4 separate regions of the Homo sapiens genome follow, and all the other regions are linked to region 3. The links come from fine-mapping of genetic effects on gene expression. A gene starts in region 3. Each other region holds a variant in brackets. All regions are shown on one strand. Distances are between the middles of the regions.

Evidence for each region. PIP is the estimated chance that this variant, and not a neighbour inherited with it, causes the effect.
Region 1: its variant is the best candidate, but not a certain one, in a credible set for the expression of MARCO in atrial appendage (GTEx, PIP 0.69).
Region 2: its variant is the best candidate, but not a certain one, in a credible set for the expression of MARCO in whole blood (TwinsUK, PIP 0.78).
Region 4: its variant is the best candidate, but not a certain one, in a credible set for the expression of MARCO in whole blood (INTERVAL, PIP 0.82).

What each region holds. Positions count from the first base shown.
Region 1 is chr2:118,982,229-118,987,379 of GRCh38, forward strand. MARCO (macrophage receptor with collagenous structure) reads left to right here. Exons shown (of 17, transcript NM_006770.4): 11 at 1-26; 12 at 120-182. Among named protein-coding and RNA genes, the nearest start is that of MARCO, 43 kb to the left of the region's middle. The variant G/A (reference allele first, on the strand shown) is at 3,061.
Region 2 is chr2:118,962,955-118,968,105 of GRCh38, forward strand. The region is part of intron 1 of MARCO (macrophage receptor with collagenous structure); the gene reads left to right. Among named protein-coding and RNA genes, the nearest start is that of MARCO, 23 kb to the left of the region's middle. The variant CA/C (reference allele first, on the strand shown) is at 1,933.
Region 3 is chr2:118,939,324-118,944,474 of GRCh38, forward strand. MARCO (macrophage receptor with collagenous structure) reads left to right here and starts at 2,871. Exons shown (of 17, transcript NM_006770.4): 1 at 2,871-3,074. The coding sequence starts at 2,978.
Region 4 is chr2:118,968,962-118,974,112 of GRCh38, forward strand. MARCO (macrophage receptor with collagenous structure) reads left to right here. Exons shown (of 17, transcript NM_006770.4): 2 at 199-300; 3 at 1,153-1,377; 4 at 2,538-2,573. Among named protein-coding and RNA genes, the nearest start is that of MARCO, 29 kb to the left of the region's middle. The variant C/T (reference allele first, on the strand shown) is at 1,935.

The sequences.
Region 1 (5,151 bases), 43 kb after region 3:
CAGTGCTGGCTCCCCTGGGCGAGCAGGTGAGGTCCTGGGTCCTATGGTGGGCACAGGGAGTGATGTGTGAAAACCTGCCTAGTCCAGCCCTTATGCTCTCTGTGGTGTCTGTTGTCCAGGACTTCCAGGGAGCCCCGGGAGTCCAGGAGCCACAGGCCTGAAAGGAAGCAAAGGGGACACAGGTAACAGAGGGTGCAGTGGGTGAGTAGGTGGGCTTGCTGGGTGGCAGGATGGATGGAGAGAAAAACTGCTTCTTCTTAGGCCCACGGAGGAGGCAGAGGGTCTTCTGTGCCTTGGCCTCTGAGGTTCCTGGTTATGGGGGCAGTTGCCCCTGCCAGGACCCCTTAAGCCCAAGGGCCTAGGGCTGTTCTTTCTCTTCTCAGAGCTCATGAAAGTCCTTGAATGCCATGACCAAACCTCCAGCATCACGGAGGAGAGCAAAGCACCTTGCCCATACCATCTCCCTGGTCTGCCTCCCAGCTGTACGTTTCTGCTGTCTCCTGCTAACCCTTCATTGGGGCCCCTAAGAGGGGGTCCAAGAGTCTAGATTCAGGCTGGAGGGTCCAGAAAACTCTTCTTCCACATTTTCCTAGGGGGGCAGCCTGGGAGCACTGACCCACACTAGCCAAAGACTAGTTTATACCATAATGCCAACAGAGTCTAGGTTAGTCTAGGTTATATACCATCATGTCTATTTAGTCTAGGTCGTAAACCATTGTACCAATATAGTCTACTTTATAAGCCGTTTTGGTCCAGTCACAGTGTGCTTGCTTGGTCTAGAAAGTCCAGACCACTATCACAATGCATAAGATCAATTCCTGCCTTTCTGCCCTGACATGCAGGGTATTGCAGTGAACAGAGACTGTTGCCAGATGATGTGGGCACACTCTGATTGGGCATTTCTGTGGAGAACTGTTGCACATTGGAAAGCCAAGAGCGGGCAGGAGGGGCAATGGGGAAGGCAGGGTTGTGATGTAAAGCTGCATGTCTGCCAAGGACATCTGTAGACAGTCTGCCTCCACCCCTGTCCTCTGCCTGAGAAGGTCACGCTTGTGTCAGACAACCTGGATGCCCTCACCCCCGTGCTGTGCTAGAGACCTACACTGGGACCTGGCCCTCCACAGCTCTAATCAATTGATTGATTCATTCATCACCACCTCCTGGCAAACCTTGGGCTCTGGGCTTGAGCTTTTGTGTTTCTTTGAAAGCTGTCGGGAGCCATGGCAAGCGCAGTTTTACACCCTCTCTGTCCTTGTAATCTGTCGAGCCCCAGAGCAATTGTGTTTTTTATGGACAGTGTGTTTGGGAGGATCCCTGCTACCTGATCCCATGTGGATGCCACCTGAAGGCCACTAGCTGGGTCTCACCATAGGAAAGTTTCCATCTGGGTATAGTCGTCAGATGTTCCTGACTTGTTCACTGTCCATTCTGATCTTATAATTCCATCTTCTCTGGTCCCCAGTCTCAGAGTCCATCTGACTATGAGACCTGATGCTCTCTTGCCCCTGAGCCTTCTGTGTGATTTCATGGAGATGATTGCTTTCATCTCTCGGTTGTAAATAGTAGTCACCCTCTGCCCCCACCCCCACTGCCAGACTAACGGTTCTCAACTAACCAAGAGTATTGGAGGTAAAACATGATTTTACCCACAGGAGCATTGTGCTTACTCCCCAAGCCCCAAGCTTGTGTCTTCCACAGTCTGAGGGTAGGGAATCCTGCCCTGCCCTTTGCATCCTGGGAGGATTTGCAGAACAAAAGCAGCTCCTGCTAATGAGCATCTTCTTGACACCCAGTGGGACAAGCACTCTTTGTAGCACAACTTTACGGTCAAACAGCCATTAAGAGATGCAGCCAGGTTCAAATCTAGGCCAGTACAAGACAAAGCTTGGGATCTTATTAGTACAGTCTATCATGAGTTCTCCCTCCCCAGCCCCACAATCAGGGTGTGCTGATGAGTGACACCTCCTCCCTTCATCCCAGTTCAGAAAGGATCAGAGCAGAAGGTAGCAGCTTGTTCCATTCCTGGGAAGAAACATGAAGCTTTCAGGCCCTATCATGGTTCTTAGTTATTTAACCAGGACCCCACACCCATTTTAGCAAAAGACTTTTGGCCCATAGCTTGGGGATCATTTTAATTTCATCCTCATCGAGACCTTTTATATCTGCTGAATACCCTTATGGAGTTCTCCAATAATTAGGCCTAGTGGTGAGTACCAGCCAGCAAATTCTAGGGGTTACCCTTAATTCTGGCTGACCAAGTAAACATGAGGAAGTGCATTTCAATTTGGGGCTTGTGATAATTCCCGTTTATCTAAAACTGTGCAGGTTGCCCACCCGAGTCCAAATGTTTTCCTTGATTTAGTAGCTGACAGTCCACATGGACATCTCAGAGGGGAATTCCAATAGGACCATAATCTGGCTAATTTAGCTGGGTATGTAGATCATCCTGGAGTCATAGGCTAATAAACTTCCGGAGAGATTAGATTTGACAACTTCTGAAGTGGGAGAAGCAGGGGCAGGCAGAGGGTGGGAGCCCAATCTCCCCATCATGGAGCACAGTGTATACTTGTCAATGTCAGGATGTCGGTATTCCCCAAACTAAAGCCACTGCAGTGCTTGGCCAGTGTTGATATATCAAGCCAGGTTTCCAAACTGATGTATTTCCCATTTTGTAAATAAAATCGTTAATCTCTCAAGAGAATATCTAGCCACTTTAGATGAAAACAGAAAAATTACAGTGCGTTGGCTTGACCTAGGTGACAGCTAGGTTTCATTACTGCGCATTAATTATTTTAAAAACATGAGCGGTCTGTTCATTATTATCAGTGCCTCTGGGCCAGGCACTGTGCCTGGGTCTTGACTCCCATGATCACACTGAACTTATCATTCCTACTTTACAAACAAGGAAGCAAAGGCTCAGAGAGAGTAAACCCTTTGCTCACAGTGTCACAGGGAGCATGAACTGAATTCAGAAGTGAATCCCAAAGTCTGATTCCAGAGTTGTGCTTTTCCAGAATCGGTTTTATGGAAGAACGTAGAGTGTATGATTTGAGAGAAATC[G/A]GTTACCTTCACCCTGTCCCCACCCCAGCCACACCTCCCACTCCTCCATAAATGGGTAAATCCTGGCTTGGTCACCAAGCCTTTCTACCTCCTCCACAGCCACTGACCACACTCTACCCCATTCAGGTGAAATGCTTCCTCTTGTTTGCATCTCTTGAGAGAGGAGCCAGCTCATATTAAAGAAGACAAAGAGGAAATTCTTCCCATTCTGGTGGGAAGATAACCTCCACAGTTTATTAAGCAAGGCACCATACCCTGCAGAACCTTCTCTCAGGGTCACTTTTTTTACCTACTAGAAACAGACCCTGTCCAGCCTCCATCACTTAGTATTTCTAACATTTTCACTTTCAAAGATTGCAGAAGAATAATCCAATTTTAGCTCTACATGTCTTAGCTATTTTGAAATAATATTTATTTAGAAATAAGGAAGGACTCCACTTCGGCTTGTAATCATGACATTTCTCTTTTTACCATTTACACCTCATGAAATAACATTAGAAGCAGCCAAAACATTTAAACTCCAAAACACCAATCTGATTGGAAATTCTTTATCTCAATGGCCTTTATGTCTAAACTATAGCAATGTGAATTTTCCATGCCCTTTTATTTTCCTCTTGGGGCAAAACCGAAGTGCAAATAACTCAAAATCCATTTTCTCATCTGTATTTGAAGATGTTTTACTTTAAAGATAAGCCAAAAAGATCATCCATAATAGCAATTGAGCCCTATGTCATGAATATAATTTCTTAGTTAATTCCATTCCTTATATCTAAGTTCTGAGATAGTCCAATAATTTATTAAATTCTACTAAGTCAAATCACTAAATTGTCATTTATAAAACTCTTCCTCATTTTCCTCTAAGTTTCTGAGAGAGCTTTGCAGAAGTCTACACATACCCCAATTTTGAGTCCCTTATCCTTCATCTCACTTCTTACCACAAGGTCGATTTGTCAGTTATTAGCTCAATCCTAAATTTGCCAGGTTGCATCTAGCCTCCAAGTTGGCATGGTATTTAGGAAAGTTTCCCCAGACGGGGCAAGACAGCAATGTCCCCCTCTCTACAAAACATAAAAAAATTAGCTGGGCATAGTGGCATGTACCTGTAGTCTCAGCTACTCAGGTGGCTGAAGGAGGAGGAGAAGGATCACTTGAGCCAAAGAATTTGAGCCTGCAGTGAGCTATGATTGCACCACTGCACTCCAGCCTGAGCAACAGAGTGAGACCCTGTCAAAAAGAAGAAAGAAAGAAAGAGAGAGAGAGGAAGGAAGGAAGGGAGGGAGGGAGGGAGGGAAGGAAAGAAGAAAGAAAGAAAGAAAGAAAGAAAGAAAGAAAGAAAGAAAGAAAGAAAGAAAGAAAGAAAGAAAGAAGGAAGGAAGGAAGGAAGGAAAGAAAGAAAGAAAGAAAGAAAGAAAGAAAGAAAGAAAGAAAGAAAGAAAAGAAAGAAAGAAAGAGAAAGAAAGAGAAAGAAAGAAGAAAGAAAGAAAAGAAAGAGTGTGAGAGAAAAGAAAAGAAAGGGAAAGAAAGAAAGTTTTCTTAATGTATTGGAGATTTCTCCATTTCACTCAGAATCAGGAGATCTGAGCCTCAGCTTGAACTTACCCCTGACTAGCTGAGTGACCACAGGCTCAGCTACTTGACGTTGCTGAGCCTGTTTCCTTTTCTGTGGCGTGCAAGCAGTATAGAAGAACACCAGGTCCCTGACAGTTTCACAGCACTCTGGGTTTGAAATAGGCAGCTTCCCTGGGAGCAGGAACAATTGAAGACTTTAGTCAGAACACCAGCTCAACACTAAACAACTGGAAGGCATATGTTTTCTAACTTAACACACATTTCTTGGGAGAATATTATTTCTGTAAAAACACTTTGCAAGTAAATATTTGGAACCCTTTCAGCTTGATAAGCTTGTGATACTTGGGGAAAGCCAGCTTGCTTATGGTTAAGAAGAAAAATCCAGCATTTATTTGCTCTCCAGCGTAGTTTTACAACATGCAGCTCTAGAACCTATTTTTTAGCCATTTCTCCCTCTACTCTGCAGGAGCTGATCCTATCAGGATGCTGCCTTGATTTATAGTGAAGTAATTACTAGTTCCT
Region 2 (5,151 bases), 24 kb after region 3:
ATTTCTGATATTGGCTATCCGTGTCTTCTTTCATTTTTATTTTTGTTCAGTCTTGCTAGAGATTTGCCAATTTTATTGACTTTGTTCAAAGAGCTAGCTTTTGTTTCATTGATTTTTCTCTATCTTCCTATTTTAAATTTTATTTATTTATATTCTTATCTTTATTATTTCCTTTTCTGGTGATTAGGAGTTATTTTGTTCTTTTCTAATTTCTTGAGGAAAAAACTTAGTGTGTTGATTGGAGGCCTTTTTTATTTTTGGTGTAAGCAGTTCGTGCTATAAATTTTCTTTTCAGAGCTGCTTTTTTTTATCCCATAAATTTTAATATATTGTATTTTCATTTCCTTTCATTTGTATTTTTAAAATTTTTTTGATGCTTTCTTAATGACCCATGCATTATATAGAAGTCCTTTTTTAAATGTTCCAAATGTTTGGAGATTTTCCTGTTGCCTATCCATTGTTGATTTTTATTTTTATTGTATTATTGGCAAATAAGGTATTCTGTATGACCTTGGTTTTTTTTCATTTGGTTGAAATTTGTTTTATGACCTAGGATATCATCTATTTTGGTGTATGTTCCATGTGTCCTTGAAAAGGATGTACATTCTGCTGTTGCTACCTGGAGTATTCTGTGTGTTCATTAGATACTATCAGTCAGTAGTGCTAGTGTTTAGTTCTTCTGTAACTTTGCAGAGTTTCTATCAATTGCTGAAACTACGTGTTAAAGTCTCAACTATAATTGTGTATTGTCTATTTCTTTTTTCAGTTAAATCAGTTTTTGCTTCATGTATTTTGAAGTTCTATTGTTTGATTTCTTATTTATAGCACATTGTTGGATTATGTTTTTTAATACAGTTTGGCAATATCCGTCCTCTGATTTAGACCATTTATACCGAAAGTAATTATTGATATGTCAGTGCTTAAATTGGCCATCTTATTGTGTGTTTTCTGTTTTTTCTTTGTTTCCCATTCATGTATTTCTCTTTTCTTGCCTTCCTGTGGATTATTTGAATAATTTTTAGAATTCCATTTTGATTTATTTATAGTGTTTTTTATTGAATAGTTTTCTTAATGGTTTCTCTACTTATTGCAATATACATATGGAACTTATCGCAGCCTGGCTATTGCAATATACATACAGAACATATCAACATTTTACCATTTTGAGTCAAGTGTAGAAATCTTACTTTCATTTATGTTCTTTAGCCTTCTCCACTTTTTAAATATAATTGTCATTTTCTATTACATTCACTGAACACCACATCAGGTGGTATAATTTTTGTGTTAAAAATCAAATGTGATTTTTAAAACTCATGAGGAGAAGGATGCTGTAGTATATATCCCTATTTTTACTTGTTCTATTATTCTCTTTCTTTTTTGAAATTCTAGTTTACTATATCATTTCCTTTCTGTTAGGGGAACCTCCTCTAGTCATTCTTTAAAGTTAGTTCTGCCAGTAAAAGATTCTCTTCATTTCTCTTCCTCTGAGAGTGTCTTTATTTCTTGTCCATTCCCACAGTGTATTTTTATTGGCAATATAATTCCTGGTTGACAATTCTTCTTTTTCAGAACACAAAATAAGCTGTACCACTTACATCTGTTCTCCATAGTTTCTGATGAGAAACTTTCTGTCATTCAAATTGGTATTCCTGGCCAGGCACAGTGGCTCATGCCTGTAATCCCAGCATTTTGGGAGGCTGAGGTGGGCGGATCTCTTGAGGTCAGGAATTCAAGACCAGCCTGGACATCATAGTGAAACCCTGTCTCTACTAAAAATATAAAAATTAGCCGGGCATGGTGGCGTGCACCTGTAATCACAACTACTTGGGAGGCTGAGGCACAAGAATCACCTGAACCCAGGAGATGGAGGTTGAAGCGAGCAGAGATCATGCCAGTACACTCCAGCCTGGGCGACAGAGTGAGATACCATCT[CA/C]AAAAAAAAAAAAAAAGTATTCCTTTATAAGTAATGTGCCATTTGTCTCTGGCTGCTTTCTAGATTTTTCCTTTTTCCTTAGATGTTTAATTTTCTCTGCCTTTTTATGTTTTCAATGTTTTAGTTATGATGTGTCTTGATATGGATTTCTTTGAGTTTATCATGTTTGCGATTTTGGCAGTTTCTTTAATCTGTAGGTTTAGATCTTCCACGAAATTAGGGAAATTTTTAGCCATTATTTCTTTGAATATTTTTTAAGCCTCACACTTTTTCTAGGAATTAAATGATATGAATTGTAGGTGTTTTGTTACTGGCCCACAGGTCTCTGAGGCTCTGTTCATGTGTGTTTGTTTGTTTTCCCAGCTGATTTTCTGTTTTTCAGACGTGTAATTTCTATTGTTCTATCATCGAGTTAACTGATTCTTTCCTCTGTCACATCTATTACACTATTCAGCTCATCTACCAAGTCTTTTTTCTTTCATTGGTATTTTTTTAGTTCTATAGTTTCCATTTGGTTCTTTTTTTATATGTTGTACTATTTTGGTGAGCTTTTAAAAAATTTGTTTCAAGAATAGTTTTAATTGCTCACTAAGGCATTTTGTTACAGCTGCTTTAAAATTCTTGTGGAATAGTTTTAACATCTGTGTCATCTCAATGCTGGTATCTCTTGATTGTCTCCTCTCATCTGAGTTGTGATTTTCTCTATTCTTTGTATGATGGGTGATTTTCCATTATATAATGGATGTTTTGTATAGTATGTTAGGAGATTCTGAGTCCTATTTAAAACTTCTATTTTAGTAGACAGTCACAGAGTCACACAGTTTAGGTTTATTATGTAGGTTCTGGCCTACTTGTGTGGGCTATGGTACAATGACAATTTAGTTTTCAGAGCCCTGTCCACGTTATTTTGATCCACTTTGTTTACCTGGTGCCATTAGTTCTTGCTGGTCCCCTGCTGGTCCTTCCTGCAAGGCAGAAGGCACGTTCCAGTACTGCCTGGTGCTATCAGGTAGGAAGTGAGATACATCAGGCCCAAAGGGAAGACATTACTTCTCTGGGTCTGCTCACCAGGCAGCCCAGTGCTAGGGTAGAGTGAGGACACCTGCTCAATGTCCACTAGTGTTATAGCACGGGAGGAGGACACCCTACCAGCACTGCCTGCTACCCCAGGAGGTGGCAGACCTGGAGGAGGACACCCTACCAGCACTGCCTGCTACCCCAGGAGGTGGCAGACCTGGAAAGACTAGAATTTGTGTGCAGGCTTTTTTTCTTCACTGGGATCTTTTACAGACTTGAAAAATTATTTTTATTTCCCTCCTGAGCTATGTTTTCATTGTGGGCCAGACAATAGAGCTGTCAAATTTCTGAAACCTGCTTGCCTAAAATCTTTGCCCATACTCATCAAGGTTTACTCCAGGGAAGCCCATTTTTATTTACTAGCAGCTGTTTTTATCCTCTCATGTCAAGCAGCTCTTCCTCTTTGGTCAAACCTGATCCAGAATAGGTGTTTTCTTTATAGTTTCTTCTACCCTCTAAGAGATGAAATGAACAGTGTAGAGGCTAAAGACTTCATCAGACCCTCCATTTTGTACAGAATGAGTTATATAGGTCTACAGGCTCAACATTCCCAGTTTCTAAAATACTTTGCCTCTATGCCAGGTGGTAGCTCTGAATTTAAAAAGCATTCTGGGCCTGGATGGCTATCCATGAACTACTGTCACAGTATTACCATACCTTATTTTTTCTCATTGTATCCTTACTCACATGCCTTCCACCACGCTCTGACCATATGGTTTCAAAATATCTGTATTTTCCATGCTTGCTCCAGCCTCTGACTTCTGTAATACCTGTGTCTCTGAAGCACAATTTACCTTTCCATTCCCATGATGTTTGTTTCATAAAATTTAGTGCTGTCCAAAAACAGTGCTGTCCATGACACTGTATTTGCCAATTTGCCATCCACCACCTCGTGTTAAATGTGAGGCTCCCCTCGTGTGTTATTTGTCTTCATCATGACGGTTGCATGAATACCTGAGGCCCTGAGTTGCATTCCTGATGTTCTTTCAACACTTCTAACTCTGCACATGTTCAGCACCCAAACCTCTGTAGCCACTCATTCATTCATCTATTCAGTCATCATCTTCCCAGCATGTTGTGTGCCAGATACCACGTTGGTGCTGGAATACAGCTCAAAGAGCTTCCAGGCCATTTGGGGAGACAGAGACAAAAACACAATCCAGGGTGATCAGTGCTATGGCAGAGAGAAACAGAGTGATGTGGGAGAGCCAAGGGGGGTTCCACCCAGCCCAGAGGAACCAGAGAAGGTGTCCTGAAGCAGGACGGGCTCTACTGAACTTCCGAAGGATGAGCAGAAATTAGTCTTGTGAAAGGGAAGGAGGAGAGCCAGTATTCAGGGGACACACATTGCCCCAAGTCAGAAGAATGCCACCAGTTGTCATCTGGCCTGGCCATTGGTCAGGATCCATGTGGAGGTGTGACATGGAACTGCAGCCATAGGAGAGCTGGCCAGACGGGCTTCAGGTGCCAGGTTGGGAGCAGTGAGCCCCCACTGAAGGGCTGAGAGCAGGGAATGACTTGGGCAGGTTATGTGTTGTGGGGCTCACTCAGGCTGCTGTGTGAGCCTGGATTCTGGGGGGTAGGGTGCAGAGGAGACGGGGCACTCCATGCTAAACTGAGTATAATCGAGTACCACTAGCTAAACAACCAACCCACCAACAAAACCACTCCTCTCTGTGCTGCCAGAGCTACCCCTAGACCATTGTTCATCTGGGCATTTCTCAAGCAGGGGTCCCTGCTGTGCGGGGGTTGGAAGGAATATCAGCAGGGTAAACACAGGAGCTGCAGGTGATAGGAAAAGATCTGAGGTTTAAGTGCATCTGTCACAATAGTTAAAACCCACCTGCCCCTATCACAAAAGCAAACATGGTTGGGCACACATTCCCTTGGGCTCCTTCATTATTGTCTGTTTCCCTTTCAGATGTGCCCTTGGGGCCCATTTCAACTGGATCTTTCCTAGGGGCAGTGGTCAGTGCAGGCTAGTGAGGCAAGCTCAGGCCTTGAAGCTAGACCAACCTGGGGTCATATGCCTGCTGTGTCACCTGCCACCTTAACTTTTTAACCCCAGCTCTCTCCTCTGTAAAGGAGTGTAACCATGCCTACCTTGCAGGGTTGCTGCAATGGTTAGAGATGATGTTGGT
Region 3 (5,151 bases):
ATTCATTGACAGTGCAGGAGTTTCGTATGACACGCTCTTTTGATATAAAATGCTATTCTGCATATAGAACTTTTGTTTACAAATGTACTTACTCATTTATTATTTTATTTGATCCACACATCCACTCTATGGGTAAACACGGCAACTCTGGGCATCCCATTTTGTAATGGGGATGCTGAAACACAGAGCTAATGAGAGGGCCAGGACTAGGGTAAGCAAATGAGGAGGGTCATTGTACGTGCAAAGTGGGATTCTGTCTTCCTTTAAAATGATGATATTTTGTTCATCGCAGAATTTTTGCATTAACTTTGATTTTTTAAATATATTGCACTAAAATATTATTTATCTTGATTATTGAATCTTTTGTACTCAAGGCTAGTGAATTATTTGCTTCATCCTAATCCCTGAGTCTCAGGCCCTGCAAGGTGAATGGATTAGCTTGAGTCATATAAAGTATCCATTTATTGCATATGAAAAACAGATAAATATCTGTCATTCCATATGATTCAACCTAATGGATCCTCCTAGGATGGAGTCAGGAGGCCACACTGCACATGAGTGCTTCAATTATACCACTCGGTGGTCCTAAGCCTGGTGCACATTAGAGCTCTTTCTGAAATTTTTATTAAAACCAGAGCCTCAGGTTTGGGATGGGAAACTGGCATTCCTCTACTGCAAACCTCTGGATTGGAACCCCTGGATTAAACCAGAATTAAATCAGTCTATAGATTGAGGCAGAGAGTCTGGATTCAAATTCTGGTGTAGCTCTTTATAACCACACAATTTAAGGCAAGTTGCAAGTTATGAGTGTTGAGCAATGTATGCAAATGTTTAGCACAGTGTCTGGCATTAACAGTAAATCCTGGATAGGAATTAATGCTTGCACAAGCCATTACTCTGTGTGGAAGTTCAGAGAAGTAAGTCAACCAAGGTCACACAGAAAGTTAATGAAAGAGTTGAATTTGGGACCCAAGTCTCTCTGGTCTCTAGCCAGAGGTGAAGTGACTACACTTGACATCCACTAAGTGCTTCCTTTAAGAACAGGGATCCTCAATAATTAGCCCATGACATTTTCTAATAAGTCCCCTCCCCACACCCATGAGAATCAAAGATGAGCTGACCAGGCAGAGGCAGAGGGAGAGCAGGGAGCTCTGCCAGGCTAAGTGAGCGGGTTCCTTTGCCTAGGGGACTGCCCTCCAGTGGGCAAATCCCCTGTGTCCTCAATTATCTGGTCCTGTCTACCCCCCAGACTCTAGCTGGAGCCATCACTTCCTCATTTCCAATTTTCCTCTTTAAATTTTTCTGTCCTGGCTTCTGCTGCTTGTCCTCTGGCGGAACCAGTGACTTCCTGAATGTTGAAATTGTGGGCGCCACGGGGGACCTCTGCTTTTCAGGGCACTGCTAGGAGCTCACTTTCCTGAGTTTCATCCCCTTTCACTTTCTGACATACCACGGGCCAAAGAAAGTGACTTCGCCTGGCACAGCTTCACTTCCTGCCACCTGTCTTCCTCACCTCTTACATTTCAAATAGGCCAAAAGTCTACGGCTCCCCTGCTCCAGGCTGTCCCACCTCTGAGAGGCTGCACCTGCCCTCCTTCCTCCCTGGAGGGCCTTTGCCTCATCTTGATCTGGATCAATCCCCCATTATCCTTTTAAGCCCAGCTCTGGTATCTGATATCTCTTGATTCAGATGATAAAGCTATTTGTCATATTTCTGCCCTGTCTCCCCTGCCTCCCGGCACTTCTGTCTTTTCAGGGACATCAACCTTTGCCGCACTTCACAGCAATTTTCTGGAATGTAGTTGTAGCCGCAACCATCTTGCATGGTAGACTGTGAATATCTTTCATGAAAAAAGGCCATTTCTTCATCTCCTCGGTGCCCAGCAGGCTCACAATGTCTCTAATGATAATAACAACAACATGACCATAGTGTTTATTACCTAATACTTCCATCCTAGCCACCTTATATGATTTAATTCATTTAAGGCTCACGAAATTCATATCTTCCTTATTTATACAAACAGAAGAGTGAGATGCTCAAAGCTCAAGTGATTTGCCTACTGCCAGACAGCCCCTATGTGGAAGAGGTGGAATTTGAAGCCAGGCATTCTAGCTCTTAGTGTCTGTGTCTTAACCACCATGCTATACAGCATCCCTGGTAGAGATGCCTGACGGGAGGGAGAGAGGGGAGAAGCTACTTTCCTTAAGGAGCTCAGATCTCACTGGGGCCTGGACAAGGACACCTGTAACACATGTACACATGTGCACACATGTGTACACACACAGAGAGAGAACATGGGAAAACTACAAGAAGAAATACTAAGTGCTAAAATGTGTGGTTCAGAGCAAGGCTTCTCAAACTGTAATGTGTATATAAATCACCTGGGGATCTAGTTAAACTGTAGATTTGGATTTGATCTGATGGGGTGGGACCAGAGACTCATTGTTAGAACAAGTGAACTTGCATTTCTAACAAGTTCTCAGGTGATACTAATACTGCTGGTCCATGGACCACACTTTGAGCAGCAAGGATGAACTCTAAAGGTTGAGGCAGGTCAGAGAAGGGAGATTTCACTGTGGGCTGGAGAGGTCCTGGGACAGAGAGCTGAGTCTGGGCCCATGGCAGGGCTTGGTTGGCCCTCTCTGGAGCCATCCAGCTTTTGGGTCTCAGGGACCTGGGAGTGACGGGTGCATTCAGAGGCCCGTAACTTGTGTCCCAAAGCCTCCTCGATCCCCCTTAACAAGCAGCAGCACTGTGTGGGAGATCCACATGTGAATAGCCCGTGTTTGAGAAATGTCCAATCCTGATCATGTCAGGAAACATCCTGCAAATTCTGAAATCAGAGCCAAAGGGAAGTGCTGCGAGGTTTACAACCAGCTGCAGTGGTTCGATGGGAAGGATCTTTCTCCAAGTGGTTCCTCTTGAGGGGAGCATTTCTGCTGGCTCCAGGACTTTGGCCATCTATAAAGCTTGGCAATGAGAAATAAGAAAATTCTCAAGGAGGACGAGCTCTTGAGTGAGACCCAACAAGCTGCTTTTCACCAAATTGCAATGGAGCCTTTCGAAATCAATGGTAAAGTACGATTCCCCAATAATGGAAATGACCAGAAATGTAGTCTTTCTGCTAGCGAGATACGAAAATAGACAAGTCAATAGAAAGTCTAGGTTTGGCTTATTGCTGCATTTTGCACGTAATCATCACTAATACTGTCTGGAGTGCTTCAATTTGGAATTTCTGGAATGCTAATAATAGATGCTGTATTTTTAGCATATAGTCAGGTTTTTCTTAGCTTCACTATTGTTTTAATCATATTTAAATATTTTCCCTTGAAAAAATGCCAATGCTTATTAAATGTCCCCTTTTTTTAATGAATGTCTTATTCTGACACACAGGTTGGGTGATACAATGAAAACGCAAAACAGGGGCACTGAAAGGGGACCACAAAACTGAAGCCAAGCATGACAGTTTTCAAAACACAGCTTCTTTAAAATTCTTTAAGGGGATTTCTGTTATAACTGATGTGCTGGTCAGGAAACATATTCTGTATTTCATGTTGACTGAAATATGTTCATAGCTTCATAATTAGTTTGTCTTAGGTTAAACTCAGGTCTGTAATATTCAGTCAACTCTGTTGTCTTTATTTTCTCACTCAGCATTCAACAGGTGATGCATTTTTAAAATCTTCTAGAATTTGTAGCATTTGAAGTCATGGGTGGGCTTGCATTCCACAAATGAGCTCTGATTTCCTAGTCTAGAACGTTCTCTTGGGATCATCTTCCAAGTTGATCAGTCATTTCCACTCCCAGGCTTTGCTGGAAGTTGTCTATGCAGGAAAATTGGTGGCTTTATCTCCTGGCCAGAGTGTCCTTCTCATCCCACACCTGTCTGCCCAGGTCCCTGCCTGGAATTTTCAGCGCACAAAGATGAAGCGTCTGGGGCTCTGCCTCTAGGAATTTACAGTGTAATAACAGAGAAAGGTGTGAGTGCTAATGGCTATAATAATCATTGGCTATTTAGAACTTCTCAGAATGCAACATTCTGGATACATGACTGTTTAAGAGACTGAAGATGTTCAAGCAAAGTCAGCTGATCAAGCATACTCAGCACCTATTTCCAGCAGGGCACTGCACTCAGCACTGAGGAAACAGGCTTGAATAAACATAGCCTCTGGCCTCTGGCTTCTGGCACGAGGGGACAGGGGACAGGGTAAGCTGCCCATGAACTGACAATTTCCATGTTGTGACTGAGACTTCCACAGGACATGATGGACAGATCTAACCAGGTGTAGAGCCCTGGAGGGCAGAGCTGACACCTCTTCCAAAGTTTAAAGGATAAAGGGAGTCCGTTAGAGAAAGAAGTTAGTGCCTGGGGCGGGGTGGGCGCCACATGTTTGTATTGTATTCACAAGAAATATTCAGAGAAATATAAATACTTCCATACTGTTTGGCCAAAATTGGGACGGAAAGACCAGTGGGGACTGAGGCTGGAACCAAAAAATTTGACTTCATCCTGAGGTCAGTGGGGAAGCAGGAAGGGGCCGATGTGGGGCTGAAAGGCACTAATGTGCATGTGAGGTTGCTCTTTGTCCTACATAGGGATGGCTGGAGAGAGAAGCTGAGGACAGAGAGGAACTTGGCAGCAAGAGATGATGAGGGGCAGTGGATGGAAGGCAGGAAAATAAAGGAATGCTCTGGAGAAACACCGGAAATCAGATCAATTGGACTGCAATGGCAGGACAGGGCTGGGGAGGAAGACGCAGGAGTTAATAGTGAACCCTAGATTTCTGACCTGGGTTGTGTGTGTCACCAATTAAAAATGTAACTAAGCCAGTGCAGGAGGATTCCTTGAGCCCAGGAATTTGAGACCAACCTGGGCAACATAGTGAGACCCTATCTCCACCAATAAATAAATAAATAAAATGTTTAAAGTATCTCACCAAAAAACCAAAACTACTCCAATTTGGATGAAAGAAACATTTTCTTATATGCATTCACAACATCCTGCCTTCTAATACAAAGATTGTGGAACATATGAAACTTTCTAGAAGAGTGCCATTATGCAGGTAATCACTGTGAGGCTCTGGTAACACAGTGACCCCTCAGGGCCGGCTCTGCACATTACTTATTTTTTGTCTGCTGAAGATTTATTT
Region 4 (5,151 bases), 30 kb after region 3:
GTGACCAACAGTGGCAATTTTTGCTTTGTGGCAAGAAAGAGGATTGGGGGATGATTTGGGAGTCATGAGCTTTTGGTGTCTTTCCCAGCTGACCTCACAGGGTGCCCCCTGCTCACATGGAGTAGGGCCTGGAGCAGGCAGGGACTTCCTGTGCTGTGTTCTCTGCAGCAGCCTCCTTCCTCCTGGCTTGTGTTTCAGTTCCAAAGCCCAAGAGGAGAAATGGGGTGAACTTCTCCCTAGCTGTGGTGGTCATCTACCTGATCCTGCTCACCGCTGGCGCTGGGCTGCTGGTGGTCCAAGGTAAAGCAGGCTTGGTCCTGTGTAGTCCCTCCTGGGGGGAGAGGGGTGACCCAGCTGGGCCCCTCAGATGAAGGGCTCAGGTTGAGTGGAGAGCCTCGGGCCACTGCTCCCATCTGCTGGGAGACAGTCTCAGCCCCTGGCAGCCACAGTGATGAGAGGAGCAAAGAAGGAGTGTATGTTGTGTGTATGTGTGCCTGAGGGAGGGAGAGAGAGAGACATTGAGAATGCTCTTGTGAGCCTATGTGTCTAAGCAGTGAAAGACATCATAATTTCACACGGGGGATGACACACACTTCTGACATCTAAGACTCCCAGCCTCTGAGTGGGAAGGGCTTTGCTGATCCAAGTGTCCATTTGAACATGATTTTACTTTTGAAGTATTCCCAATCTAAAGGTTAAAGTCATGAAGTCGTTCCATGAGCAGACACTGAAGTCACTCAAGAACGCTGAATGAGCAGTTGTCATAAACACGTCTTGTGTGTATTAAGATCACACACGAATGCTGCTTGCACATATTTAGGTCAGACCAGCATGTTAGCTGTCATGCATCTACACCCAGAGCATGCAGGAAGGTCTTAACTGCCTGAAGGTTGGAGATTGATTGTGGATGCAGTAGGCACAGCTTTAGGCCACGCAGAAATGTTTTGTGGACGTGCAATATCATGCCTGAGTGTGGAGCGCACATGGTCAAGATGTAGAAAAGGCCGTGTGCTCACGCTAGGTCCTGACAGCACATGGAATTTGTGTTTACAAATTCAGGGCCTGTAGAAGTTATGCACACATGACACAAGAATGTCAGGGATATGCTCAAATGCCTCAGTCCCTAAAAGAATGCTGTGGGGTGGGGCCCAGTTCTGAATCTGCAGGCGCGGCTCCGGGTCCTGGAGATGTATTTCCTCAATGACACTCTGGCGGCTGAGGACAGCCCGTCCTTCTCCTTGCTGCAGTCAGCACACCCTGGAGAACACCTGGCTCAGGGTGCATCGAGGCTGCAAGTCCTGCAGGCCCAACTCACCTGGGTCCGCGTCAGCCATGAGCACTTGCTGCAGCGGGTAGACAACTTCACTCAGAACCCAGGTTTGGCCTCCTCCCCTCTGGGTCAGGACTTCTCAACAGAGGTCTGGGAGACAGCGGGATCAGGAACCAGGAAATTAAGGACCCTGTCCAAGCAAAGTGTGACCTCCAAGAGCCAGGGACTTAGAGCAACCAGCTCAATGCCAAGTCTGAACCCAGAGTCCCCACATGGATCCAGAATGTCTGGGAGGGAGGGTAAAACACAGAGCCTGGGGCGGTTCCCTGGACCACTCCCCCACAGCTGACTTACACTGACATGAGGTTGGGGAGAGAGCAACTGAAGGCACCAAACTAGTTCAGACAATGTGGGGACTTTGTGGGGAGGAGGACACCCGGACCTGCTGGGGGAAAGGTGGTGACTTGGGTGGTAGGGCTGCAGGCTGGGGAAAATTGAGCCAAGGGTTAAAACCCCAAGGGTGCCCCTTCCCTCGGTGCTCTCAGGGCCTTGCAGCTGCACCCTCTCCTCTCTCAGCCTGCCCCAAAATGGGAAGAGCCTCGCCCTCAGACAGTTTCAGCAAAACCAGCTGCTAGGTGTGGCTCAACTGTTGTAGGGTTTACCC[C/T]GTGACACAGAGCTCCAGCCCCAGCAGGGTTCCTTGCTCTGGGCCCTGTGTGAGCTGAGGCTTAGGAGGGTGATCCCATGGCTAGGTCCTGTGACCAAGGGGTACGCCCAGCACGGGACCCAGGAGGCCAATCCCTCCAGAGGCTGTGGCCTCCCCAGGGAGAAAAGACGAAGGCTGAGTGGGGGTGTGAGGAGGGGCGATAGCTGTGGGCAGATGGAAGGAGTCCACGTTCAGACACAGACACCATGGGAGTGTCTCTTCCTTCCTTGAAATGTGAAGGAGCTCATTTTGACCAATACGAAGGGGTTCTACCTCCTCAGGCTGGTTTGAAGCAACCTCCTTTCCCCACCTCCAAGACTCCCAGGGATCTACAGGTCTCGGGGTGCAGTCCGCTAGTTGCAGCTGAGCATCTGGCTCTTTCCAAGGACTCTTTCCCAAAAAACAGCCAGGTGCTTGGCTCCTGTTGTCCAAACCCCCACAGTCTGATGGGAGCCCCACACAGGAGGGCTTACCCTCCCACTGCAGAACCTGGGCACTCTCAGTTGGGGCTTGGGCCAAGGGTACCCCACAGCTCAGCTGCAGCTCACTCTCCTTCCCTTGCAGGGATGTTCAGAATCAAAGGTGAACAAGGCGCCCCAGGTAGGTTCATTTCCACTCACACCCACCCTGCTCTTTCCCCAAAACCTCCCCAAAAGGGCCCCTTGGCCTGTGCCATTCTGGGTCTGGACAGCTGACCCTAGCTTACCTTCCCCTGTCTCCACAGCCTCCTTTGTCTTCAGTTGGGTCTCCTCTCTGTTCCCAGAACTTAACTGGACTCCCAGACCCTGGGCTGTCATCCCCCTCCTTACTTAAAGAGGCTTCCTCTCTCCACTCCCCCATCCAAATCTAGCTACCTTCCCAGGCCAGACCAGGCATCATCTGGCTGCCAGGGCAGCCTCTCTCCTGGTTTCCTGTAAGCATTCCTTCCAGGTGACTCTTACCTACCACATACATAGCACTTCCCACCAGAGGTGCTGTGCTCATTTCCATGGTGTCTCACTCCTCTCTCCTACAGGGCAGTAATGATGGGAGGCAGGTGTCATGGAGGCGCAGGCTGTGCGGTCAGGCCGATCTGAGTTCTAATCCTGGGCCTGGGGCTTACTGGCGGTGTGACTCTGGGTCAGTTACTTAAGTTTTCTGGAGCCCCAGCCACTCACCTGTGTAGGAAGCAGTGGAGATAATCGACTCGCCTCACAGAGTTGCTGTAGGACTCAAGGGAGTGCAAAAGCTGTCTGACAATGGCATGTGCTCTCTGAGGACAAGGCTATGGTTGTTTGCCTTTTCTTCCTGCCTCAACCCACATGTGTTGTGTTACACACACGCTTCACTCACAGCCCTGTTCCATTTCATCTGCTGAGTGGTTGAAATTTCCCCCTGAGGATAAATATACATGCCATTTTTGGGACAGAATCCTTTGGTCCCATAATATTTCAAGGATGGCCCAGATCACACCATTGGCCAGGGAGGGTTTTGAGGCAGCCTTGCAAAGTGATGGAAGCAGGGACTTGGGAGACTGGTGGGCCTACAGAAAATCCTGGATCTGCCCCTGTAAACTGGGTGGCCTTGAGTAAGTCACCTAACATTTCTGAGCTCTATGTCCTCCCCCGTAAGATGGAGATATGGTAGGACTTCCTAGGATTGGTGTCAGGATAAAACAATAAATGTACACCTCTTAGTCCAGTGTCCAGCAAAGAGCAAGTACTCAATGATGTTCTTGTCTTCGTTATTATTATGACTATTATTTGCTATTGTTATATATGGTTGTTATTCTGTTATTCTTGAGAAAACTAAATGCTGCTGCTAGGAGAGCCTCCAGCCTGATGAATGCTGGCTCCTCTCCTTTAAGGAGGGGCAGTTTCAACAATTTCAATTGCTTTTGCTGACAGAATCAATGCTTAAACTTCTTCTCAACCCAATGGGTTCAGTACAACCTTCAAAATCTGCCTGTCACCCGCCCTAGGCACAGTGCTGCCCACCTCACCCCAGAGCACAGAACATGGCTTCTATGGCTCTCTCTCTCTCTGTATGAATATAGATGTGCGTACATAGAGGAAAACTCCAACTCTCTCTCTCCATGTCTCTCTCTCTGTCTCTCTGAATATAGATGTATGTACATAGAGAAAAACTCCAACTCTCTCTCTCCATGTCTCTCTCTCTGTCTCTCTGAATATAGATGTATGTACATAGAGAAAAACTCCGACTCTCTCCATGTCTCTCTCTCTGTCTCTCTGAATATAGATGTATGTACACAGAGAAAAACTCCAACTCTCTCTCTCCATGTCTCTCTCTCTGTCTCTCTGAATATAGATGTATGTACATAGAGAAAAACTCCAACTATCTCTCTCCATGTCTCCCTCTCTCTCTCTCTGAATATAGATGTATGTACATAGAGAAAATCTCCAACTCTCACTCTCCATGTCTTTCTCAGTCTCTCTCTGTCTCTGACTTCTGTCTCTCTCTCTCTCTCTCTGTCTCTTCCCACTCTTTCTTTTTGTGCCCAGAAACCAGAGACAGGAAACTTCTTCCAGCAGCTGGGGCTATAGAAGTCTCGGCTCCTCCTCGGACACCACCTGCCTCTCCAGATTCCCCGCCCATCACCCTTTCCCACCCAGGGAGGCTGTGTTCTCTCCCCTTCCCCATGGCTTGCCTTGCCTGGTCAAGACTTCCCAGAGGTTCCTTTGTTGAAAAGGCTCCAGAGACAAATAGGTGGGTGGGGGAGGAGGGCTGGGTGTGGAACCCAGAAGTCATGGTCTCACTGGAGGCAGCCTGCCGGTGGAACTGCCTTCCCACGCAGGCTGCCTGGAACACAGTCAGGGGAACTGCTCCTCAGCCAAGCTTCAGGGAAGGGGATTGCGAAACCCACTTGCCTCTCTGTTTCTCTCCCCTATCCATCCTGGACTTCTTTCCTTCCTCCCAACAAATACCTATTGAAAGTTCCATGAGGATGAGAAGTCGCATAGGCACTGGGGATCCAGACATGAAGAAGACAGACAAGGCCCTGCCCTTGTGAGCCTTCCTGTGAGCTTGCCTTGTGTGTTTTCCATGATGGTCCCCACGTGGTAATCTCAGGACATCCCTGTGTAATTAGTACACTAATTCCATCTTACTGATGAGGGAGCTGAGGCTCAAAATGATGATGTAACTTGCACAAGGTCACCCAGCTAAAGGGGCAGTGCTA